Homo sapiens: one gene and its partners. The protein of the gene in region 2 purifies or fractionates together with the protein of the main gene of each other region. This does not show direct contact. Each region holds a gene or a part of one and is shown on either strand. Other genes may lie near its edges. The genes, in order: PPP1R15B, FSHR, ABHD6, BMPR1A, AKT2, GJA1 and UPK3BL1.

Region 1 (2,969 bases), on a different chromosome or scaffold from region 2:
GTGCTTTTAAATGTCCTTTGCCTGCATGAGGTGGAAAGGGGACCTTTTTGAGTTGTCATTTTGCACTTTCAAAACTTATTTTCTTGGAAAACAATATTTATAGGGCTTAAAGCCCATTTTCATTTCTAATCTAAATTATGTGTGCCTATCTGAAAACTTTGGGCTCTTTCTTGTTTCTTTCCCAAAATTCAGAAGTTAATGGGCTTTTATGTTTTTCTATATTTTTTTTATTTCAATGATTTGGCCTGTCTATGTTAGGCTAAAAAATAACCTTGTGTATGCTACCAACTTAAAGTGCATTATTTTGTGTCACTTTTTTTTTTCTTGTAAAAATGACTTGGATTGAAAATATGTGGTAGCCTTTTTATTTCTACATTAAGTTCTACCTAGGATATTTCCAAGGACTGCCACAAAACCCATATGTGCAGTACTTTACTACTTTGGGAAAGCTGCATCTTTCTACCACATTTTAACATCTAATATATTTAATTTCTTTGAAGAGGGTTCTGTGTACGTTATTGTAGTTCCCAGTTTAATATAGTTCTTTGTATCTCTTAACAGGTTGAAGTTATTGCAAAACACTCTGGAAAGTAATAATTACATCATAATCATTTATTTTTTAAACTTAAAAGCCTAGAAATTTCCTAGAAAGAAAATAGGAGACATCTCAGAGCAATTTGGTTTTGGTGTATATGTTCTCAACAGAAAACCAGTGTTAATGAATATCATGCCTCAGCACTGTCACTTTTAAAACCTGTCAGGATCCCACTGTAAAATTGGAAATGGGCAGTTCTGAATTTTCACGTTTGAAATGTAAAATATAAACTTCAGTCAATATCCAGGTTTATTGTGTCCTACTATTTAATAATGAGAGAAGTAATGGCAAGGCCTTTACTTTCAGGAAAGGATAGAAGTATAGATTAATGACTGGAAAGTTTTAATATATTTAGCCCAAAGGTTACTTTGAATTGAAGTCTTTGCATTGACTGTTTGTGTTTGGTTTATTTGTTTAGCTTTACAAGGTACACATAAGTTAGGTTGAGGGGTTGTTAACCCTTCCGTGGTCTGCTTTCATTCCGTGTGCTTCCTGTCACAGGTAATGGAAAACATAAGTAGAATAGGTGACCTCTTAGTTTTGAACTTATTTAAGTGTGGGGATGAATTTTTCATCAGAAGTGCTTACAGGGTTACTACCTCAGTTTACAATCTACCTGGTCATTATTTTATTTCTATCCAGTTCTAAGAACTGCCTCCACTGTTTATATATTCATAATTAAACACATTGAGAATGCAACACTATAAAAGCTGGTCAAATTTTTGCAGAGCCCTTATTCTGTGTGTTTTTTGTTTTTTTCTTTTTTTTTTGAGACAGAGTCTCGTTCGGTCCCCCAGCTTGGAGTGCAGTGGCGCGATCTCGGCTCACTGCAACCTCCGCCTCCTGGGTTCACGCGATTCTCCTGCCTCAGCCTCCCGAGTAGCTGGGATTACAGGCACACACCACCACGCCCGGCTAATTTTTTGTGTCTTTTTAGTAGAGACGGGGTTTCGCTATGTTGGCCAGACTGGTCTTGAACTGCTGACCTCGTGATCCGCCCGCCTCGGCCTCTCAAAGTGCTGGGATTCTGTGTGTTTTGTGCACCTCCACTTTAGGTAATCATAGGGAGCACATTTACAGGATGGTCTAATAACATGAAAACAGGCTAGTTTCAAGCAACAGCAATGTCGGTTGGAAAGCAGGCGTCATTTGCCTTGAAAAAAGCCTTTTGACAACATACAGGCATTCTTTTAAAACCAGGCTGAAACATTTTATTTCCGAGACTTAACGTTGTGTTTCCTGTTTCTTAAACCTAGCACCTCTGTGTATTTGAAAATAATGAGACATCTTTCATTGGATTTTGGAAAATTGTTCCCCATGGGATTCTAACCTCACTACCAAATGAGTGAAAGCTTGATTAAGAGTTCTTCCATATACTAGCCTCCTTGGAAGAAGTGATCAGAAGGTGATAAGAAGGACAGAAAGGACTATTTTAAAGTTGGACTGAAGGAGAAAAAAGCAAAATTCTTGTTTCATCCCAATTCTAGTTAGAACAAAGTTAAACCCCCGTAATCTTAAAGAGAAAATCTTTGGAGGTTTTAATTAAACATTTTATACATTTAAAGTCTTGTTAATGGTGCTTTAAGTGTCAATGTAGCATGTAAAAGGCTTTGTACAGACAGGTAAAAGTTCCATTTCTGAGTGATGAAATGTAACACTTCTTCATCTTTAACTTGAAATCAAAACTATCAGATTTTATTTTTGTATAATTTAAGGAAGGTAAAGTTAGGGGACTAGAAGACTCTAAATTGGCTTCTACAGATCAATAATTTAAATGTAACTAGTTGGGATTTTATAGTTAAAATTATATTTGTGTATATAACATAACTAATCTGTAAATTGTAATAAATATATTTGCAATTATTAAATGTTAAGTGATATTTTGGTTCAACTTTATATTATATGTATCATAGTATTTTACAATGGTTTTGGAATTACTAAGCAGGATTAGTATAATTGCAAACAACATTTTAGTAATAGAAGAACTTGGTTCTTGCAGTATTATGAGAGGCCCTTCTAAGAAACTGAAGATTTGATTCTGAAATTGGCCCTAGCTTTTCAGTTTTGCTGCAAAGAAAATTAAACTGGGTATTCACAGAAGCAATAACATTCAGATGCTGGGCTTAGCCTAGTGCTTAAGTAGCAGGGAAATCTCTGTTTTGTGCATTATTATTATTATTATTTTTTGAGACGGAGCCTCTGTCACCCAGGCTGCATTGAAGTGGCACGATCTCAGCTCACTGCAACCTCCACCTTCCGGTTTCAAGCGATTCTCCTGCCTCAGCCTCCCGAGTAGCTGGGATCACAGGCACCTGCCACCATGCCCGGCTAAATTTTGTATTTTTAGTAGAGATGGGGTTTCATCATGTTGGCC
Region 2 (3,500 bases):
CAAGAAAGATCCAAATAAACATAAACATCTAGGTATAAATGTTTACATTTATCACCAATCTCCCTCTGTGAAGTAACCCAGGAATCCTTTTACTGTTGTGTTTGTTTCACAATCCAGCAGGCCAATATGACTCATGTATTCACTATTTTCCACAAGCTCTTTGTATTATTATTTTTATTTATTTTATTTTATTATTATTACTTTTTGAGATGGAGTCTCACTCTGTTGCCCAGGCTGGAGTGCAGTGGTGCAATCTTGGCTCACTGCAAACTCTGCCTCCCGGGTTCAAGCGATTCCCCTGCCTCACCCTCCTGAGTAGAGGGGATTACAGATGCCTGCCACCATGCCCAGCTAATTTTTTTTTTTTATATATTTTTAGTAGAGACGGGTTTCACTGTATTAGACAGGATTGCCTCAATCTCCTGACCTCGTGATCTGCCTGCCTCTGTCTCCCAAAGTGCTTGGATTACAGGCATGAGCCACCACGCCCACCTGATTATTTTTATTTTTATAAAAGGCAGGTGCTCTTCCTGGTCTTGATTATTCTGTTCCCTCTGCACGCCCTTTGCCAATTCCCTAGCTAACTACTGCTCATCTTTAAAAGCCCATTTTAAAAACAACCTCTTTTTCTTAGCTTCCTTTCCCTTGTTTAACTCTTCCTTTAACCCTCGCATCACAGACTAGTGAGATTAAATCATTCCTTCTTTCCTCTTAGAATGATTGCTCTTTTTTTCTTTGTATATCATTCATTCTGCTCGCGTTTTAGTTTATTCCTTTTGCTTTCTCTTTCTTACCCTTTCTGCACCCCATCACCTCATCTCAACACACACACACACACACACACACACACACACACCCCTTCACTTCAAATATCATGAGCTTATGTGAAATGATTCAGTATCACTCACCTATAGCTTTTGTCCTAATATCTATGTATTTTGAATACATTCCTTTGATTTAATTTTATTGTTCCCTCCATACATTCAATTTCTATGCTAATCTGTTTTCAAACTTTTTCCATTGTTATCTGTGATTAATTTACATCAAATACAGTGCTTAGCTTTACTCATCAAAGTGTTATAATCTGTCTACTATTTCTTTTTTCTTTCAACAGCCTGGTCTCTGAATCATACAACTGAAGGGGGCTAAAATTCTTTATGGACTGGAACTTATGTTTTGTACATATAGGCATATTTTAAAAACTCATACTGGTATATTTTTTTAAAAACACAACAGTTTGTAAAATAGATAAAATGCTTTTCATATCTTACAGATGTAAGTGCAATTGCTGGGTCCCCAAATGTCATTCTGTGCATCTAACTTTCATGGATCCCAGGCATACTTAGATAGCCCATAGTGTCCTATTTCTTGGCCATACTTGTGAGTGGATAAACTGCTACAGGGGCTACTGGCATAAAAGAGTAGAAGGTCTTTCACTAACAACACAGAATGCTTTTAAGAGATTTCCCAAAAGTCAGAGAGAGTAACTCAAGCTCATTAAAAAATGTGATTGTTTCAAGAAAATGAGAAGTCATCCTATGCTCAGCATGGGCCTGAACAGGAACTGCTTGGCATGGTTATGAGGGAATCGCCATATCTTCCTGATTGGGCCTCCTTCCTGATCTTTTTCTTTGGGCAACAAAAGCCTTGCCAGGCAATAACTAGCTTTATTGATGCATGAGTTATTCTTTCCTTTGGAACAGATGTTGTATCACAGGAGATCATCATTCAAACAGCAATTTTAAATACTTGAATCACACCCCAGAATCATAAATTATTAACATGACTCCACATTGTGATTCTGAAATGTAAAGATGAGAGAGGAACGCAGAACTGGAGAGTGATTTAAGTGGAGAAATGCCAAAGTTACCCAAACAAAAAAGGAGCATCCAATTATGAGAAAGAGATCACTAAATGAAAAATCAAATGTTACTCTGTTGGATTTTTTCCCCCTTACTTACAGAATCACACTTTCAAAGCTCAGCCCCACGAAAGAATTTCTTTCAATTGTGTGGATGTTTATGTTATCTTGAATGTCACTAGAAGAAAGTACAGACAAATAAGATACTTACATCAGCTCTACTCATGTAACCTTCCAAAATTTAGTTTAACTGGCATGATGCGGTCTTCAGCTGAGGTAATGTATTAATATAACTAGTTGTTGTTTAGAAGATGATCAGCTCAAAGTTTGGAGAAAAAATTGTCTCTAATTTATCTTTAGTATGTTCTTACAAATGGAATTGCAGACATTCAGTGTCTTTTTTTTTTTTTTTTTTTTTTTTTAAGACAGGTTCTCTTGCTCTGTCACCCAGGCTGGAGTGCAGTGGTGCCATCACAACTCACTGTAGCCTCAACCTCCCAGGCTCCAGTGATCCTGCCACCTCAGCCTCCAGAATAGCTGGGACTGCAGGTGTGCACCACCATACCCAGCTAATTTTTGTATTTTTTGTAAAGTCAGGGTTTCACCATGTTGCCCAGGCTGGTGTCAAACCCTGTGCTTAAGTGATCTGCCTGCCTTGGCTTCCGAAAGTACTGGATTAGAGCCACTGGCCACTGTGCATGGCTTACTTTTTTCTTCTGAAGGTTTTCTTAAATAATTTCACCCTAATGTAACAAACACTTAAGCTGACCTTTCACCTCTTGTCTAACTTCTCTGTTCATCTTAGTTGGGCCTTCTCCTCATGTCAATCCCCTTCTTACAGCTAGTTTCCTTCTGCCTGTTCTCCTTGGGTCTCAGAATGGCTTTATCATTGATTTTTCTTTTCCTGAATGAAAGGATGAGGAAACTCTCATTTTCTGTTTGTATTCCTCATTTCCCCCGTCAACCTTCCCTGTTAGGTCTGATCTAATATGGAGAAGTAAATGTGGAAGTAACAGCTGTACAAGTAGTGTAGTAAACAGCTTGGAACAATTTGAGAAATTCTGAAAGATTTTCATATTTTCCTCTTTCTCTCCTCCCTCCCTGCTTATCTCCTTCCTCTCTGCTTAGCTCCTTACACCCCTTCCCCATCTCCTCCTTTTGGATCTGTCCATATTCTTACAATTTCACTATTGGGAATAGTTGCCATTATATGCTACCTTTTCTCTTCCTTTTTCAAAATACAAATACCTTGGGAAAAGGCAAACACAGCCTGTCATTAACTCTTTAATATGAATGTGTTTGTTAGATAGTTTCTTTGTGCCCAGGGCAGCATAGCAATTCTAGAAAGAAGAGGAGAGGATGCTGGAATACAGGGGGTGTTGTTTATGTGTGTGGGGGGCAGTAATTAAAGCGCTAAATAGTGAAAAAATGAGCCACTTTTTGATTTTGCTACATGCTGGTTTTGTGAACAATACTCTTATTGAAGGGTCTTTCAGTTTCCTCCAAACTAATATTGACTGGCCTGCAGGTAAAATCAAGGACCTCACTTCTGGCCTCCCTATCTTTGCTAACCCAGAGCAATACATTTGGAGGATGTAGACTACACAATGCATATTAAAGGCCCAGATAGCCGTTGGGC
Region 3 (3,500 bases), on a different chromosome or scaffold from region 2:
GGGGAAGGATAGCATTAGGAGAAATACCTAACGTGAATGGTGAGTTGATGGGTGCAGCAAACCAACATGGCACATGCATACTTATGTATGAAACCTGCAATCTGTGCACATGCACCCTAGAACTTAAAGTATATTTAAAAAATAAAAAAGAGGATAAGGGGTCCTAGCCAGGTGAGGTGGCTCAAGCCTGTAATCCCAGCACTTTGGGAGGCTGAGGTGGACGGATCACGGGGTCAGGAGTTCGAGACCAGCCTGACCAACATGGTGAAACCCCATCTCTACTAAAAATGAAAAATTAGCCAGGCGTGGTGGCGCACACCTATAATCCCAGCTACTCAGGAGGCTGAGGCAGAAGAATCGCTTGAACCTGGGAGGCAGAGGTTGCAGTGAGCCGAGATCATGCTACTGCACTCCAGCCTAGGTGACAGAGTGAGACTCTGTCTGGAAAAAAAAAAAAAAAAGAGTATAAGGGGTCCTGAGATTTTTTTTTTTTCAATTGAGTATCTCTGATTTAGCCCCTGCCTCCCTTTCTAACTCCATCTTCACCATTCTCTTATTCTTGGGGCTCCAGCTACCCTGGCTTCCTTTGTCTTGAATATGTATGTTTTTCCACCTCTGCATATGCTGTCCCTAGAAGAGGCTTATCAAAGCCACCCCTGCCTCCCCGTATTCAATCACTACACCATCTTCATTTCTGCTATAAAACTCATGACCACTGGTAGTTCATTGTTTACTTGTTATTGTCTGCCTCCCCCACTGGACTGTGTCTGCCCAGGGACCTTCTTGTCTTTATTGATCACTGTACCAGCACAGTGCCCAGCGTGTTGCAGGCACTGCAGAGACACTTGCTGAATATATGCAGAAGAGGACAAGAAGTAGTCAATGAGTAGGTGAAGGAGGGAATACGTGCAGGAAGCTGGTACTCGCCCCCGGGCCTCTGGGGAGGGTAGTTGTGTCGCTGCTGCAACCACGTTACCTGCTGGGGCACCTTGAAGCGGACATAGGAGCAGAGCTGAAGCATTTCACTCATCTCTTCTGGGGTAGACGGGATCAAGGGAATCTTCTCCACGGCGGCAGAGCCCTGCAGTTCTTTGAGCCGTTGTACAAATTGATTGTCAGTTGAGTACTGCAGGCCTGTGGGATTCAAACCCAAATGGCTTGATGATACATCCACCTTCTTACCAATCCCATTTTATATAGGGAACTTCTGACAGCAGCCCAGAGTTAATATATTTCAGGTTTATTTCATGAGTAGATTTCTTTTTTGTTGGTACTGCCATCCTTGCTCAAATCAAAACCACACTGAGAAACACACAAAAAAATCCTTCCACATATTTCAGGGACTGGTCACTCACACTGTAGTCCATGGACCAGGAGCATCAAAAGCCCACAAGAAATGCAGACGCTGCTCCTCCCTGAGCCTCTTGAACCAGAATTTGCCTTCTTACAAGTTGCCAGGGGATTCATATGTATGATAGAATTTAAGGAGGGTTAGCCTAGAAGACAACTTGCCTAAGCATATCTGAGTGTTGACAGGAAATGTGAGGAAATACATGACCGGAAGAAAACATAGGGCTGGCATGAATGACACTCCTTCCCTTGGCCTGGACCCACGTGGTACTCTCTTATTTGGGGTCAATGATAAAACACAGGGGGACTGGGAGTCTTCCCAGCTGTCCCTTGCTTTAGGGCAGCAACCCTGCTGCCTTCTCCACAGTTGCTCTTCCTCTAGGAGAGCAAAATTGAGATTGCTCATTATCTCCCATCACCTCAGGGCACGACACGAGAGTCCACAGAAGCTGATGCTATGTATGCAAGAGGGCAAAACTAATTTTCACTTCCAGCATGGAGCAAATTTCTAGGCATTTAGCTTAGCCAAATAATTAGATTTTTTTTTCTTTTTTTACTTTAAGTTCTGGGATACATGGGCAGAACGTGCAGGTTTGTTACATAGGTATACATGTGCCACGGTGGTTTGCTGCACCTATCAACCCGTCATCTAGGTTTTAAGTCCCTCATGCATTCGGCATTTGTCCTAATGCTCTCCCTCCCTGTGACCTCCACCCTCTGACAGGCCCCAGTGTGTGATGTTCCCCTTTCTGTGTCCATGTCTTCTCACTGTTCAACTCGCACTTATGAGTGAGAACATGCGGTGTTTGGTTTTCTGTTCCTGTGTTAGTTTGCTGAGAATGATGCTTCCAGCTTCATCCATGTCCTTGCAAAGGACATGAAATCATTCTTTTTTATGGCTGCATAGTATTCCATGGTGTATATGTGCCACATTTTCTTTATCCAGTTTATCATTGGTGGGCATTTGGGTTAGTTCCAAGTCTTTGCTATCGTAAATAGTGCTGCAATAAACATATGTGTGAATGTTAGATTTTTTTTTAATTTTATATTTTTGCAGAGATGGGGTCTCCCTTAGGCTGGTCTTGAACTCCTGGCCTCAAGCAATCCTCCTCTCTTAGCCTCCCAAAGTGTTGGGATTACAGGTGTGAGCTACCTCACCCAGCAAAATCTAGAAAAGAGCTAGATTTTATAATGAAAGGCAGTAGCATCAATAATATTGGTCGTGATGCAGAAACCCACGCTTTGCAAATCTATGTCCAGCAAACCCTTTAAATCTAACATGGGTATGATGTATGGCTTTCACGATGCCATGAAGCAGATGACATTATCTATTTCCCCTCTCTTTAAAACTAAACCTAGGTTAGATGTCATGTGGTACATCCTGGACTGGATCCCAGAACAGAAAAAGGACATGAGTTGAAAAACTAAATGAAATCCAAATAAAGCCTGGAATTTAGTTAACAGTAATATACTAATGTTGGTTTCTTAGTTGTGAAAAAATTTACTGTGGTAATGTGAGCTATTAATGGGGAAACTGAGTATAGGTTATATGGGGCGCTCTATAATATCTCTGCAATTTTTCTGTAAATTAAAAATTATTTCAAAATTTTTAGAAAGTTTATTTTAAAACTCTTGGTAGGATATAATCCTGAATTTATTTCTACTTTTTAGTTTTCACATACAAACTTAATTTTAAATTTCCAGTTGAAATTCGGATGTCAATTTTTTCTCTGAGCAAATGAACCTATACTTGAAAAAGCCAGTTAGATTTTACTTCCTGTAAGTGATTTAAAATCTAAAAACCTTCCATAGATGCTGTTCCTTCAATTCTCAAACTTATTATTATAAGATCAAATTATTTCAGATATGCTACTTGAAAAAAGAGAGGAGAAGACCCTTTGGTGTCTTCTCTTCGATTTCAATGTCCTCAACATATCGAAAATGATTAGCTTTCAGAGTGGCAGAAGGATTTTAAAGGTCAATTTAGTTAAGTTTCAGTAAAAGTCATTAAATGTTCAATTCATGGCTGGATTCTAGTTGAATCATACAGAGGAAGTAGAAGATATGAGTCATAAAAAGGAGGCAGTAAATATGCAAGGACTTCCAAACATCACAGCTTGGGTTCTGGAGTCAGGCAGCCTGGGCTCTGT
Region 4 (3,500 bases), on a different chromosome or scaffold from region 2:
CTCCTGACCTCGTGATCCGCCCACCTCGGCCTCCCAAAGTGCTGGGATTACAGGCATGAGCCACTGCGCCCGGCCAGAAGTATTCGGTAAAGTGAGCAGTTTTTGCAGCTTTTTAAAAATTTTAAAGGCAATACATCTATTGTGGGTAATTTGGGAAGTATAAAAAGCCATAAAGAAGCAGCGGAATGATTAAGTTTCAGCTTCTAATTTTTTATAAATAATGTCTGATACTGGTTTTACTACTGAGTACCTATTCAATCACGGATGCCACACTAACCCAATCCGAATCTTCGTTTCTTTATCTTAAAAAATAGAAGGAACATGGTGAACTTTAAGATAATTTTTCTGCTTAAAAAAAGAAAAAGAAAGAAAATATCTTGACTTGCAGCACAGTTAGCTGCCGAAATTGAAGGTCATATAATGCTTTTGGTCCTAATGACATCACTGGACTTCTGACTTTTGGCTGAAGAATCACGCCAGCCTTGGCAGTCCTTGCAAGTACCAAAGGGAGTATGGCTTATGCCTGCGGTGCCCTTCCCGTATCCTGCTTTCTTACCTCCTTTTTTGAGCATTAATTTTTTTTTCTTTAGCCTTTGGGTAAAGTATCAAAATGTTGAGAAGATAGACTCTCAATTTTGAAGGTGAGAAATCTGTAGGAGACTTGGATAGTTGTTTTTTTTTTTTTTTTTTTGAGACGGAGTCTCGCTCTGTCGCCCAGGCTGGAGTGCAGTGGCGCATGTTGGCTCACTGCAAGCTCTGCCTCCCGGGTTCACGCCATTCTCCTGCCTCAGCCTCCTGAGTAGCTGGGACCACAGGAGCCCGCCACCACGCCTAGCTAATTTTTTCTATTTTTTAGTAGAGACAGGGTTTCACCGTGTTAGCCAGGATGGTCTCAATCTCCTGACCTCGTGATCCTCCCGCCTCAGCCTCCCAAAGTGCTGGGATTACAGGCGTGAGCCACCACATCTGGCTGACTTGGATAGTTTTGATACTGTTTTATGTATATTAAGATTTGTAGGTAGTTTTCTTACTAGTAATTAAAATGCTTTGTAATGTATTTCAAGAGTATAGGGTCTTGAGTGTTTTAAATTTGTATATAAGAATGTTTTAGATTCCTGGCTAAAAGAAGCTCTTGTTAGAAAATATTAAAGTAAAGGCTGTTAAATTTTGGTGAGGCTCTTAATGTCTGCATTTTTCAAGAATCATTTAAAAATGTCATGAAATAAAAATATTTCAGTGGTAACTGTTCAGAAGTATCTTAAATGTATACCAAATCAATGAAATATAATCGCTGGGTGACAGATTATTCTTCCTTCATTTTATAATCTTTTATTTAATAAAAATGTGGGGGAAAAATTGCATGTTGAAGTTGTACGTGTATATTTTAGCAAAAACTGTTAATCTTTCTGAAGTACTGCTTTGGTCATCATCCCTATTTGTTAAATATTTTTCCCTGTTTTCTTATTTGCTTACAATAGAAAATCCAGAATATCTTGGACTGGTCTCCTGCTCTGGCCAAGTCAGCCTTTTCTGCTTTGCTTCCTTTCCTACTATTTTATCAGCCTAAGTCACGTAAATATCCGATTCAGGTTTGGGTTCAGAATCCTTAGACCTCTACTGTCCACTACAATAGATAGCCACTACCACATGTGGCTGTTGAAGACTTGAACTGTGGCTAGTCTAAGTGTGAATTACGTACCAGATTTTGAAGATAGTACCAAAAGATGTAAAATATCTCATTATGCTTTTAAAATATTGGTTATATAGTGAGATGATACTGTTAGGGATACATTGGATTAAAGAAATATATTAAAACTGATTTTGGCCGGGCATGGTGGCTCATGCCTGTAATCCCAGCACTGTGGGAGGATTGCTTGAGCCCAGCAGCTTGAGACCAGCCTGGGTAACGTGGTGAGACCTTGTCTCAGTTAAAAAAACAAAACTGATTTCACAGGATTCTTTTTACTTTTTAAATGTGGCAACTAGAAAGTTTAAAATTACACGTCATATTGGACAGTACTGCCTTTGACTTTCCTTTCCCTGGTTCTTTGCCCATCAGAATGCTTTAAAATCTAGTATAAATCCTTGGCCAGGTGCTGTGGCTCACGCCTGTAATCCCAGCACTTTGGGAGGCCGAGGCGGGAGGATCACGAGGTCAGGAACTCGAGACCAGCCTGACCAACATGGTGAAACCCCATCTCCACTAAAAATACAAAAATTAGCCGGGTGTGGTGGCACGCCTGTAATCCCAGGTACTCAGGAGGCTAAGACAGGAGAATCACTTGAACCTGGGAGGTGGAGGTTGCAGTGAGCCGAGATTGCACCATTGCACTCCAGCCTGGGCGACAGAGTAAGACTCTGTCTCAAAAAAAAAAAAAAAAAAAAAAGAATATTCCTCTCTCTCCTATGAAGCCCTCCTCAGTGGTCCAAGCCTCATAGTTGGCTCTTTGCTGCATCATTATTTGAAGATAATCTTTTGGTATATTAGATTTCTTTACTACAAACCTTCTCAGAACTTTTAATATGCTAATACACATGGTGAAACTCTAGTATAGTTTCCCTAACTACGTATTACCATAGAACTGTGTGTTTTCTGTTAACAGAAGTTACACATATTTGTGGTTGAAATTTCAAACAATACAGAAATGAAGTAATGAAAGTCTTCTGTAATCATGCTTCACCTGTGCCCCAAGATTGCCACTGTTGAAAGTATAGAGCTAGAAAAAATTTTCTTTTCTGTTGCCTTCTTTCTTTTTTTCTGTCCCCATTTCCTAAAATGGGGTCATACGATACATCCTTATCTTTAAATTTATTTTCACTGAATATATAGGGGGATTCTTTTTATGTCAGTAAATTTCAATTTCCTCATTCTTTTTTTTTTTTTTGAGGGAAGGTCTTGTTCTGTTGCCCAGGCTGCAGTGGTGCTGTGGTGCAAACAGCTCACTGCAGCATCCAACTCCTGGGCTCAAGCAATCCTCCCATCTCAGCCTCCTGAATAGCTGGGACCAGAGGTGCATGCTACCATGCCCAGCTAATTAAAAAATTTTTGTGTGTGTGGAGGTGGGATCTCACCATGATGCCTAGGCTGGTCTCGAACTCCTGGGCTAAAGTGATCCTCCCACCTAGGCCTCCCAAAGTGCTGAGATTACAGGTGTGAGGTGTTGTGCGCAGCCTTAATCATCTCATTCTTTATAGTAGTTAAGCAGTTATTCCATTTTCTGATTATACCTTAATTTTACTTACCAGTTTCGTGTTAATGAATAATTAGATTATTTCCATTTTTTTCTTTTGCATTGCAAATATGCTGTGGTGTTTGTACATATCCTTTGAGACTGTTTTTATTTTATGAAATGAATTCTTAGAAATGCATTTACTATAAGAGAAGCCGTGCAGATTGGATGGAAAGTGCCAAGCCACCCTGCAAAATCTTCGTAACCATTCATATTCCAGCCAACAGTATTTGAATATGTTCTCTCCTCCCAACATAATCATATCAGTCT
Region 5 (3,500 bases), on a different chromosome or scaffold from region 2:
AGGACCAGGCTGCTAGGGACAAGACACCTGTGACGTCCCTGCAAGGGAGACAAACAGACATCACGAGAGCCCCGAGGTGCCACCACAGGCTGTGGGAAGTCCCACCTAGAAAGCATTCTTGCCCAAAGAAGGAAAAACAGTGCTTCTTGGTGTGGTCCCCACACAGCACCTCAGCACCGCCTGGGAACTGGCAGCAATGCAAATTCCTGGGACCTACCCCCAGGCCCACTGAGTCAGAAACTCGGGGTGGGCCCAGCACTGTCTCACAAGCCCTTTGGGTGACTCTAATTCAGGTTCTAATTTGGTACCTGACTGTACAGCAGAACCACCAGGAGTGGTTCCAAAAATCTGGAGCCACCTGCAGCAACGTGAACACAGGCTCTCTCTGGGGCAAGTTTATCCCCAGGGGACACCTGAGAATGTCTGAAGTCTTTTTTTTTTTTTTCCCTTTTTTTTTTTAGCTGGGGGTCTGGCTCTGTCGCCCAGGCTGGAGTGCAGTGGTGTGAACATGGGTCACTACAGCCTCAACCTCTGAGGCTCCACTGATCCTCCCACTTCAGCCTCCTGAGCAGCTGGGACTACAGGTGCACGCCACTATGCCCAGCTAATTTATTTTTATTTTTACAGAGACAGGGTCTTGCTTTGTTGCCCAGGCTGGTCTCGAACTCCTGGGCTCAAGCGATCCTCCCACCTCAGCCTTCTAAAGTGCTGGAATTACAGGCGTGAGCTGTGGCGCCCAACCCAAAAGTCATTTTTGATTGTCACAACTTGGGGAGCTAGTATTGGCTTCAGTGGGTAGAAGCCAGGGGTGCTGCTGAAACCCTAGAATGCACAGGGCTGCCCCGACAGCGCAGAATCATCTGTCCCAAAACGTTAACAGTGCTGAGGCTGAGGAAGGCTGCCTTAGGCCCAATCGTCACATCAGGAATGAACAGCTAATTTGGTTGGCTCTGATGGCAGCACCACATGATTATATTCTTTACAGTCTTCATCTGTCAGGACACATGTTCAAGTATGGATGAGTGAAGTGACGTGTTGTCTAGGACAGGCCTTAAAGTATTCCAGAACAAGAGGGACAGGCAGAGCTAAGGAAACAAGGCTGGCTAAACGCTGATAACTGGTTAAACTGGACAATGGCTACATGGGGGTCCGTAATATTTATTTTCTTTTTAAATTTTTGAATGTCTTTGGAATCTTCCACTACAAAAAATTCAAATAAGGGAAAAAGTAGAATTCCACTCCTGGCCCGGCCTCCACCTGGGATACCCTGAGCAAAGCCCGGGACTCCCCAACAGCGACGTCCTCCCCAACAGGCCCCAGCCTCCCTTGACAGTACCTGCTGGGTGGGGCCCCGAGGCTCTCTCTCTCCACAGGCACCCCCAGCCCCTAACATAGGGTGGAGGTGGGGACTCAGCAGCAAGGCCTGCTGCTCCTCTCTGGGCCTCAGGCTCCCCCTTTTCTGACTAGGGGGAATTTGTGGGGGAAATAAGCCCACAGCAGCAGAAAGCGCGGGTAAGCGTCCAGGCCTCAGGGTCAGGCTCCAGACCGCAGCCCCCACAGAGGCTCGCGAGCGCAATTCCCGGGGCACGCACCTTGGCAATGATGACTTCCTTCCGCAGGATCTTCATGGCGTAGTAGCGGCCAGTGGCCTTCTCCCGCACCAGGATGACTTTGCCAAAGGTTCCCTTGCCAAGGAGTTTGAGATAGTCGAAGTCATTCATGGTCTGCCAGGGACAGGGAGAGTGGGGGCAGTCAGCGCCTGGCTCATGGCCCGTGGGAGGAAATTTTAACAAAAGAAAGAGGAAAACCAAAAGACACTGTTGCCAAACGGCTTAGGCTGGAGCAGGAAGGGAGGCTCTGGGCAGCAACTGTGTGTTCTGAAGCGGCCTTCAGACCAGGCTCTGCAGGCACAGGGCCTTGGGAGGGCTGGGCTCTGACGTGGGGGTAGCCAGGTCTTCACCAACTCCCAGGACGAACCTGCAGTGGGTCCACCCAAGGTTGCTCCCTCCCCTACGGGCATGGAGCACACCCTAGGGCACCTGCCACCTGAAATCACCCCACCCTGCAGGGCAGCCTTGTCTCTCAGCTGAGCCCCCTGAACTGTGTTATGGAAACCAAGGAGAGCAGGCCAGCACTGGGGGTGGGGGCACCGCAGGCTGGCAGCCCCACCCCTGCTCCCAGCACTTACCACTTTAGCCCGTGCCTTGCTGACCGCCACTTCCATCTCCTCAGTCGTGGAGGAGTCACTGGGGGAGCCACACTTGTAGTCCATGGGGTCCTCGCCTGGGGCCCGCTGCTTGAGGCTGTTGGCGACCATCTGGATGGCCCGCATCCACTCCTCCCTGTGCAGGGACACACGTGAGTCCCAGCAGCCAGGAGTCCTGGGCCTCAGAGTCGAACAGCTGAGTGCCACCTCCCAGCCACCCCCAGCAACAGGCAAGCAAATGACCACATAACCATGGGAATTTGGGCAAGATCTGTCAGAACCAGAGAGAGCTGAAGGGACCTGAGTGAAATTCCACGCCAGGCGCAGTGGCTCATGCCTATAATCCCAGCACTTTGGGAGGCTGAGGCGGATGGATCACAAGGTCAGGAGTTCGAGACCAGCCTGGCCAACATGGTGAAACCCCGTCTCTACTAAAAATACAAAAATTAGTCAGGGGTGGCATTCGCCTAATCCCAGCTACTCAGGAGGCTGAGGCAGGAGAATTGCTTGAACCCGGGAGGCGGAGGGTGCAGTGAGCAGAGATCGCACCACTGCACTCCAGCCTGGTGACAGTGCGAGACTCCGTCTCAAAAAAAAAAAAAAAGTGGAATACCAAGAGCGATCACCAATTTCCCTAAAGTGACCTGGCCTGAGGGCCATTTGAAGCCAGGCAGCAGGGAAATGATCAAAAAGGAGTGACCCTCTCTTTTCACAGCCCCTTGAAAATGAGCCACCACCCTGAGCCTTGAATGAGGGAGAGAGAGTGCTCCTGTGAATTCTTCGGAACAAATGACAAGCTCAAGTTTATAAGTTACCAATGTTTTGTAAAGTTAAACCAAGAGTAAGAAGCAGCATTCATTAGCCAAAGGAGCTGAAGACACTGCAAGGCAAGAGCTGGCCCGCAGGACTCCCTGGAGGGGACAGTCCACTGGGAGCAGGGAGTCTGCATGGCAGGGACAGAGGTCCTGGCAGCCCAGGGATGTAGAGGAGAGAAGCTGGTGGACAAGAAGTAGGTCCCAGCAGAAGGGAGCCTGGTTTAAGAACAGTTAACTAGAGGCTAAGCACTGTGGCTCACACCTGTAATCCCAGCATTTTGGGAGGCCAAGGTGGACCAAGTGCTTGAGCCGAAGCGTTCAAGACCAGCCTAGGTAACAAAGCAAGACCCATCTCTTAAAAAGTTTTTAAAAAACAAAAATAAAAAATAAAAACAGGCCAGGTGCGATGGCTCACGCCTGTAATCCCAGCACTTTGGGAGGCCAAGGTGGAGGATCACTTGAGGTCAGGAGTTCGAGAC
Region 6 (3,500 bases), on a different chromosome or scaffold from region 2:
TCCAGCATCTTTTTATGATTGAAAGAAAAGAGAAGGTGAAGGACTTTAATATCTGAAAGAATAAAATCAGAGTCTAAACCTACATAAGGAAATGTCTATGGAAGTTCCCGATAAAATCATTTAATGGATTTTTTGGGAGGAAAGGGAAATCATGTGTGTGTCTAATGTACTAACACCCAAAAATATTCATGCCCAAAAACTCAAATGCAAACCCTTGTAATGTTTTCTTTCACTTTTATAATAACCTCTGCCCCTCCAGTAAATGTCATTGAGTGAACTCAGTTGTCTATTCCTCCGCACTTAAAACAGCCACCCTTAGCTTGATCTCAGCCATCATCAGTTTGCTAGGTTTCATGTCATTAGCCTGGTCACCCTACTTGCCAACCTATACTCCGAGTAATCAGTCAATCTTGAGAAAACAAACCAACAATCAGCTTGGTTTGATGAGCTCTGCTCCATCCACGCAGCTCACGTCCTCACTTGTTGCAGGTCTCACCTCATCAGCCAACTTTCCTGACCACCAAATATGAAATAGCAACATCCTTTCCCCAGTCCTGTCATTTCCTATTCCCTTTGCCCTGGTTTTTAAAAAATTATTATTTTAATAGACTTTCTCTCTACTTGATATAGTAAATATTTGCCTGATTACTATGTACCTCCTTCCATGAGAAGGATTTATTATTTGTCTTCCTTAACTGGAATGTGAACAATACGAGGGAGTTTGCTTTGTTCACTGCTGTATCCCCAGTGCTTGAAAGAGTAAGAGATGTGGCTCACACCTGTAATTCCAGCACTTTGGGAGGCCGAGGTGGGAGGATCATCTGAGGTCAAGAGTTTGAGATCAGCCTGGCCAACATAGTGAAATCCCATCTCTACTAAAAACACAAAAAAGTAGACCGGGTGCGGTGGCTTAAGCCTGTAGTCCCAGCACTTTGGGAGGCCGAGGCGGGCGGATCACGAGGTTAGGAGATAGAGACCATCCTGGCTAACACAGTGAAACCCCGTCTCTACTAAAAATAAAAAAAATACAAAAAAATTAGCCGGGCGTGGTGGCGGGCACCTGTAGTCCCAGCTACTCGGGAGGCTGAGGCAGGAGAATGGCGTGAACCCGGGAGGCGGAGCTTGCAGTGAGCCGGGATCGCGCCACTGCACTCCAGCCTGGGCGACAGAGCGAGACTCCGTCTCAAAGAAAAAAACGACAAACAACAACAACAACAACAACAACAACAACAAAAAAGTAGCCAGGCGTGGTGGCGGGTGCCTGTAATCCCAGCTACTCTGGAGGCTGAGGCAGGAGAATTGCTTGAACCCGGGAGGCGGAGGCTGCAGTGAGCAGAGATCACACCACTGCACTCCAACCCGGGTGATAGAGTGAAACTCCGTCTCAAAAAAAGAAAAGAAAAGAAAAGAATTAATTAATTGGGGTATAGCTACATGTTAAATGAATTAAATGGGGCTTCCACAAAAAATAGAAAGATACTGTGCAAAAAAAAAAAAAAAGTTTGTTTTTTTCTGTCTCTTTGGGATTCTCTTAATTGTAGTTATATCTCAAATTTCTAAAGTTTCAAATTAATTAAAAAGGAAACTTCACAGTAAAAAACTATTGTCATCATCTCATTCTCATACTGTTAAATTTTCAAGTGACAATTGCTGAAACAGAGAACTGTTTGTTGAAACAACATGCTTCAAATGATTCCTGAGCAGGCAAAAGAGCTAAATTAAGAAAAAAGGCTCTTTGCAACCCCCACTGCTAAATTTGACAGGCTTAAAAGAAAAAAGAAAAAAGGCTTTTTAACAAAGAGCTTCCTGAATTTGTTAAATGAGATCCTAATGAGGGTTAGGATTCTTGTAGAACTGCATCAGGTATCATGCTTGTACATTCAGTTCACTGTTAGGTTGTTGCAGGTTAAGATTTAAAACACAAAACAAAAAAAAAAAGGAAAAAACACAACTGTGTGGTTGTCCCCTAGTTCTACGATGTTCTAACTCCGATTGCACCACACAATTTTATTGTAGACAAGGACACTATTACAAGAAGAAATAGCCTGTTTAAAATCGTGTTTATTTCAAGAATGATAAATATCGGGGAAGGCTAGGGCTCTGAAGGGGAAGAGCAGCAGTTGATATTAACCCTGGTTAATGTAACATCTTTACAGTCTGAGTCTATGCAGGCACTAAAGTGATTAGATTCAAGTACCATGGAAAAGATTCCCAGTTCATCAGATAATACCCAACCTTTACTTCCTTATTTATACCTAGATGGCCTAACTATAGTGTATCAAACTTACTGTATGTAAAAATATATTTATAAATAATTGCACATTTGTGTAGGTATTTGATGTTGTGAACTGCTTATTTTGGGGGCAGAGGGGAGGACAACATAAAAACACCAACAAGCCTTCCTTCCCCAGCTCTTACCCCTCCTCATCACTGAACTTACATTAGCATCCACTTAATGAGATGAGATGGGAATTGAGGTGTGAGGAACTCCATCCAAAGAGAGGATGGTGCATCCCATAAAAGACAATCCTCTCCCTAGTTCAACAGCTACTACTCAATTCTCCCCCAAAACAAGTTTCTCAAGATCAATTTAGGGCTACCAGAGAGAAAATCCCAAGTCAGAAGCTGAGGCTAAAAGCCATGTTCTTCAATTGTGATGTAACTTAATATATTTCTATCAGTCCTTGGCGTTTCCTCTGCCCCTACTCTTACTTCCACCTCCAAATTGACTATTTTTAGTGAATAGCCTTGTTATTTTATAATCATATAAAGACACCCTTAGGGCCCTCACAAGTGTATTGATTAAGATAGTCTATTTTTTTCAATGAGAATTTAATAAATAACTCATGCATGTGATGCTCTTAGTAACAGCTCAGTAAAGTTTGGTTCTTACTCTTTAGACGACCTTTAGATATAGCTCATTTGGTTTTAAATTTTTCATCTTTTCTTTAGCAAAACAGCAACTAAGAAATGATTGACAAACATACATTTTCTTTTTAAAATTTTTTTTTATAGAGGTGGGGTCTTGCTATGTTGCTCAGGCTGGTTTTAAACTCCTGGCCCCAAGCGATCCTCCCACCTCAGCCTCTCAAAGGGCTAGGATTACAGGCATGAGCCATCATGCCCAGCTGACGATAAACATATATTTTTCTTAAAATATTATTTTAAAAGCATAGGGAAATTGGAATGTGAAATTTATGAAATTGTATAAGCCACTGATGTATTAAAAAAAAAGAGCTAACCACAGTTTGAAAATAGGTAAAAGACAATCTGTACATACATAGTTAAAAGGTGACTTTAGATGGAGGTTTAGACAATTATGCTAAGAATTTAAAAAATATATACATTAATCTCCCATGGAAGAGATGCTCTGGAGATTTTTTAAAACTTGAATTATCCATACAGAATATTACATTAATAATAAACACTAGATAATTACTTTTTCTCTCCAGAGTTGAACTGGTGTGTGCGGATAAGCTCCCACACATCTCTTCAAATAA
Region 7 (4,256 bases), on a different chromosome or scaffold from region 2:
AAAAGGAAAAAAAAAAAAAAGAGAAGAAGGATAATTCATGTAATTCATGAAGGCCTCCCTAGCCCCTGCCTGCTGCTTCCTCTTCCCTTTGGCCAAGCAGGAGCAGGGGACCCAGGCATCCTGCTGGGGCCCTGGTGAGCCTCGTAGGAGCTGCCCCAGGCTCCGGCTTGGGTGCATGCGGGCAGGAGCCAGGGCCTGGCAGAGCTGCTCACCTGTAGGGGCCGGGTCCTGGTAGGGGATGGTTGCAGCCAATTTTTGTTGGTTGGCAGTGGGTATCATTGCCGACGCGGAGGACATGGAGCTGGCCTCTGGTCTGGTACAGCACCCGGTTGGCCCTCAGTGTGAGATAGTAGCCCCTCTGGGAGAAGTTGGCAGGAGCAGGGATGTCCTGGTTTGTCCGTGGGGCCGTGAAGCTCTGGGTGGCTAAGGGTGGCACCATGGTCAGACAGGTCACACAGCAGGATCCCACCCTCACCTTACCAAGCCTGACAGCCCTCCCCGGCCCCATCCCCTGCAGCACCTGCTCCCTGCATCTCCCTGCAACACACCCGCTACTGCCCTTAGGCCCGCAGGCCCATTTCACATAGGGAAAACCGAAGCCTGGCCCCAGCAGCACCCACCGTTGCTGAGGGCCACCACCAGCCAGATGGTATCCAAGTCAGAGATGTTGTGGCTGCTGAACTGGCCTAGAGGCTGCTCCAGCGTGAAGGTGGACAGGGTGAGCCTCCCCGCCAAGGTGTCGTTTGAGAGCTGGGGCACATAGCTGATGTGCTCTGGGGCAGCTGGAAGGGGAGGGCAGAGAGGAGAGTCCAAATGGGGCAACCAAGCCCCAACAGCTCTGGTCTCCCCCCGCCCAGATCCAGACTTAACATGGGAGCCCCAAGTTACGGGCACTTCCTGGGAGGTCAGGTCCGGTATGAACCAGGAAGCTTTCCCGGCAACTCTATGCCCCATGGGCATGGGTGGGAGGCCTGAGTCCAGCCCCTGGCCCCTCTCTTAGGAGCCTACTGGGGGTGGGCACTGTGGGAGGTCTAGGACAATGGTGGCATGGGAGGTCCCACCCTGGCGGTAGGCACAGTTCTCCTGGGCCGGGCCATGTTGGGATGGAACTGGAATTTGGGGGCAGCCTGACCCTAGGCTGAACTCTGTTCCTGACATGCCCAGTGACCTCCAACTTAAGTCCCTCCAGCTCCACCCACATGGTCTAGGTTGTTTTGCTTGATGAGAGGATGCGTGGCTTGGCAGGGGTCGGGGGGATGGCACAGGAAGGTCCTCTTGGCTGAGACCCCAGGCTGGGACACAGACTGCCCAGAGGGTCCGGGGGCTCTGGAGCCAGAGCTTGGTTCCGAGTGAGTCTAGAACGTCCTCTTCAACCTGCCTGGTTCTCTGCCGCCTCCCAACATGGCCCCGAGGCATCTTCGCCTTCAGGACCAGGTCCCCCTCTCAGACTCCCACCTCATCTCTCTGGGGAAGGGTGGGGGACGAGGACAAGCTTCCCAGGTCTGTACCCCAAAGGGGACTCAGGATTGGCAACTTGGCCTGTGTCCAGCCTTGCTGGTTGGAGAGCTCAGACCTCCCCAACCCCAAATACTGGTCTAGGAGAAGCAGAACGATGGAGTGGGTTTCTATGTGAGTCTCCAGCAGCTGCCCCTGTTCAGTTCAGTTCAGTTCAACTTCATTCATTTACGTTGAATTCAACTCAACTCCAAAGGTTCAGGCTAGAGTCTTCCTTGGGGAAGGATTGTCACGATTCCTTTCTTACAGCTCTCAGTCCTATCTCTGAAGCCCAGGGCACTCTGCGTGCAGGAGGCACGTAATGTTTAGAAAGAGAAGTGGAGGCCGGGCGCGGTGGCTCACGTCTGTAATCCCAGCACTTTGGGAGACTAAGGCGGGCATATCACGAGGTCAGGAGTTCGAGACCAGACTGGCCAATATGGTGAAACCCTGTTTCTACTAAAAATACAAAAATTAGCCAGACATAGTGGCGCACGGCTGTAATCTCAGCTACTCAGGAGGCTGAGGCAGGAGAATTGCTTGAACCCGAGAGGCGGAGGTTGTGGTGAGCTGAGATCGCGCCACTGTACTCCAGCCTGGGTGACAGTGGGAGACTCTGTCTCGAAAAAAAAAAAAAAAGAAAGAAAAAAAAGAAAAAGAAAAAGAAAAAGAGAAGCGGAGCAGTCAGAGATTGGGGTTGGGGGCAGAGATTGTAGGACTGTATCTCTCAGCCTGTCCAGTTTTTCTTTTCTTTTCTTTTTTGAGACAGGGTCTTGCTGTTTGGCCCAGGCTGGAGTGCAGTGGCGCATTCATAGTTCACTGCATGGGCTCAAGCCATCCTCCCGCCTCAGTCTCCCAAGTAGCTGGGATTACAGGTGCACTCCACCACACCCAGCTAATTAAAAACAAAAATCTTAAAAAAAAAAATCTTTTTGAAAAAAGGGGTCTTGTTATGTTGCCCAGGCTGGGCTTACCAGAGCTTCCTGGGGACATGCATTGTCCTGGACATCTGGAAACCTCTCCTCAGGGAAAGGAAGGAGGCAGGAGCCATGTGTGAGAATTTGGAAACAAAGTGAGGTCTTGGGTTTGTCCTGCAGCCTGAGATGCAGCGGGTACCCCTGTGCCAATCCCCACCCTTACTCACCCACGTCTGTCCCAGGCTGGACACGGGTCAGTAGCAGCAACAGCGACACTAGCAGCTGGGACTGTCCCGCAGAGAGCCCTATGGCCGGGCCAAGCCTCCAGCTGTTGTCCATCTGTCTGTCCGTCCGTCTGCAGTGTCTGCAGCCCCAGAGGCTCCCCTGTCTGTAGTCTGTGCTGTGCTAGGGGAAGCTGTTCCTGGCATCTCCTGCTGCCCCTCCCAGCTACCCCCTCCTCTCAAACAACTGGTTGGACAGGTTTGGGGGCAGAATCTGCCAGCCCAGTGAATCTGGCATCGCCAGGGAGGGGTCTGAAGAGAACATACAGTTGCAAGACAAGCCTGGACTACCCCCCCCACCCACCAGGAGCGCCTGACCAGGGAGGGGCTGAGGAAGGAGGCGGGGCAGCCTCAGGATCCAGGCTGCCCCAGGGACAATCCCGCTAAGTCTACCCCGTGGATCTCCTTGTCCAAACAGTCCCCAATGTAGCGACTCTTCCTTTAGGACCTGAGGTGGGAGGATCACTCGAGCCTGGGAGGTTGAGGCTGCAGTGAGCCAAGATGGCACCACTGCACTCCAGCCTGGATGACAGAGTGGGACCCTGCCTCAAAAAAAAAAAACAAAAAACAAAAAACAAAAAACCAACCTAGGAGGAGTTGGTGTCTGTTTTTGGTTCATAGGGAGTGCCGCTCAAGCAAACTCCCTGGAGTCTCTTTTATTTATTATTATTTTTTTTTGGGGGGGGCAGGGTCTCACTCTTTCGCCCAGGCTGGAGTGCAGTGGTGCGATCATAGCTCACTGTGGCCTTGACCTCCCAGGCTCAAGGTTCTCAGATTCTCAGGCCCCACCCTGGGGAAGGATGGAGGATGAGGACAAGCTTCCCAGGTCCACATGACAGAGGGACTCAGGATTGGCAATTTGGCCTGTGTCCAGCTTTGCTGCTCAGAGAGCTCAGATCCCCACCCTCAATTCACTCCCTTGTGTGGAAGGGAGTGACCCTCACTTTCTAGCACACACAGGGAAGAGGGCTTGGCTAAGAGCACCCAGGAGGTCAGGGCAGGACTGGGGATTAGATCACACCCAAATGCATCTCTGTGGCACTCCTGGTATAGCCCTGCTGTCCCCCTGTAGCCTGGCCCTGGGAGGGGGGCTCCCAGACTTCACACCCCCTCACCTCTTTATCCAGGGGACCGGCTGTCTCTTCCTCCTTCATCCCCAGCCTCTGTCAGGGCAGGGTAGTTCCTCCTCGAGACAGAAAATTACCAGATGGAAGTCCAGGCATGGTGGCTCACGCCTGTAATCCCAGCATTTTGAGAGGCCGAGGTGGGTGGATCACCTGAGGTCAGGAGTTCGAGACCAGCCTGGCCAACACGGCGAAACCCCATCTCTACTAAAAATACAAAATTAGCTGGACGTGGTGGCTTGTTCTTGTAACTCCAGCTACGCAGGAGGCTGAGGCAGGAGAACCACTTGAACCCAGGAGGCAGAGGTTGCAATGAGCCGAGATCGCACCACTGCATTCCAGCCTGGGCAACAAGAGTGAAACTCCCCCTCAAAAAAAAAAAAAAAAAAAAAAGATGAGATGGGGCTCAGGGCAGGTGGAGCGAGACCTGTGACCACCTC

The links.
Region 1: the proteins of FSHR (region 2) and PPP1R15B purify together in Homo sapiens (affinity purification with mass spectrometry; one large-scale study listed by BioGRID and IntAct). This does not show direct contact.
Region 3: the proteins of FSHR (region 2) and ABHD6 purify together in Homo sapiens (affinity purification with mass spectrometry; one large-scale study listed by BioGRID and IntAct). This does not show direct contact.
Region 4: the proteins of FSHR (region 2) and BMPR1A purify together in Homo sapiens (affinity purification with mass spectrometry; 2 studies listed by BioGRID and IntAct, with this or other methods). This does not show direct contact.
Region 5: the proteins of FSHR (region 2) and AKT2 purify together in Homo sapiens (affinity purification with western blotting, with the first as the bait; one study listed by BioGRID). This does not show direct contact.
Region 6: the proteins of FSHR (region 2) and GJA1 purify together in Homo sapiens (affinity purification with mass spectrometry; one large-scale study listed by BioGRID and IntAct). This does not show direct contact.
Region 7: the proteins of FSHR (region 2) and UPK3BL1 purify together in Homo sapiens (affinity purification with mass spectrometry; 2 studies listed by BioGRID and IntAct, with this or other methods). This does not show direct contact.

Annotation. Positions count from the first base shown.
Region 1 is NC_000001.11:204,402,881-204,405,849, reverse strand, and holds the end of PPP1R15B (protein phosphatase 1 regulatory subunit 15B), read left to right. Parts: 3' UTR 1-2,469; downstream 2,470-2,969. UniProt on the Homo sapiens protein: Maintains low levels of EIF2S1 phosphorylation in unstressed cells by promoting its dephosphorylation by PP1.
Region 2 is NC_000002.12:48,987,016-48,990,515, forward strand, and holds part of FSHR (follicle-stimulating hormone receptor isoform 1 precursor), read right to left. Parts: intron 2,040-3,500; coding exon 1,962-2,039; intron 1-1,961. UniProt on the Homo sapiens protein: G protein-coupled receptor for follitropin, the follicle-stimulating hormone. Through cAMP production activates the downstream PI3K-AKT and ERK1/ERK2 signaling pathways.
Region 3 is NC_000003.12:58,272,292-58,275,791, reverse strand, and holds part of ABHD6 (monoacylglycerol lipase ABHD6), read right to left. Parts: intron 1,135-3,500; coding exon 977-1,134; intron 1-976. UniProt on the Homo sapiens protein: Lipase that preferentially hydrolysis medium-chain saturated monoacylglycerols including 2-arachidonoylglycerol. Through 2-arachidonoylglycerol degradation may regulate endocannabinoid signaling pathways.
Region 4 is NC_000010.11:86,763,119-86,766,618, forward strand, and holds part of BMPR1A (bone morphogenetic protein receptor type-1A isoform 3 precursor), read left to right. Parts: intron 1-3,500. UniProt on the Homo sapiens protein: On ligand binding, forms a receptor complex consisting of two type II and two type I transmembrane serine/threonine kinases.
Region 5 is NC_000019.10:40,240,346-40,243,845, forward strand, and holds part of AKT2 (RAC-beta serine/threonine-protein kinase), read right to left. Parts: intron 2,343-3,500; coding exon 2,189-2,342; intron 1,725-2,188; coding exon 1,593-1,724; intron 1-1,592. UniProt on the Homo sapiens protein: Serine/threonine kinase closely related to AKT1 and AKT3. All 3 enzymes, AKT1, AKT2 and AKT3, are collectively known as AKT kinase.
Region 6 is NC_000006.12:121,438,646-121,442,145, reverse strand, and holds part of GJA1 (gap junction alpha-1 protein), read right to left. Parts: intron 1-3,500. UniProt on the Homo sapiens protein: Gap junction protein that acts as a regulator of bladder capacity. A gap junction consists of a cluster of closely packed pairs of transmembrane channels, the connexons, through which materials of low MW diffuse from one cell to a neighboring cell.
Region 7 is NC_000007.14:102,639,992-102,644,247, forward strand, and holds the start of UPK3BL1 (uroplakin-3b-like protein 1 precursor), read right to left. Parts: upstream 2,801-4,256; 5' UTR 2,751-2,800; coding exon 2,639-2,750; intron 783-2,638; coding exon 621-782; intron 424-620; coding exon 213-423; intron 1-212.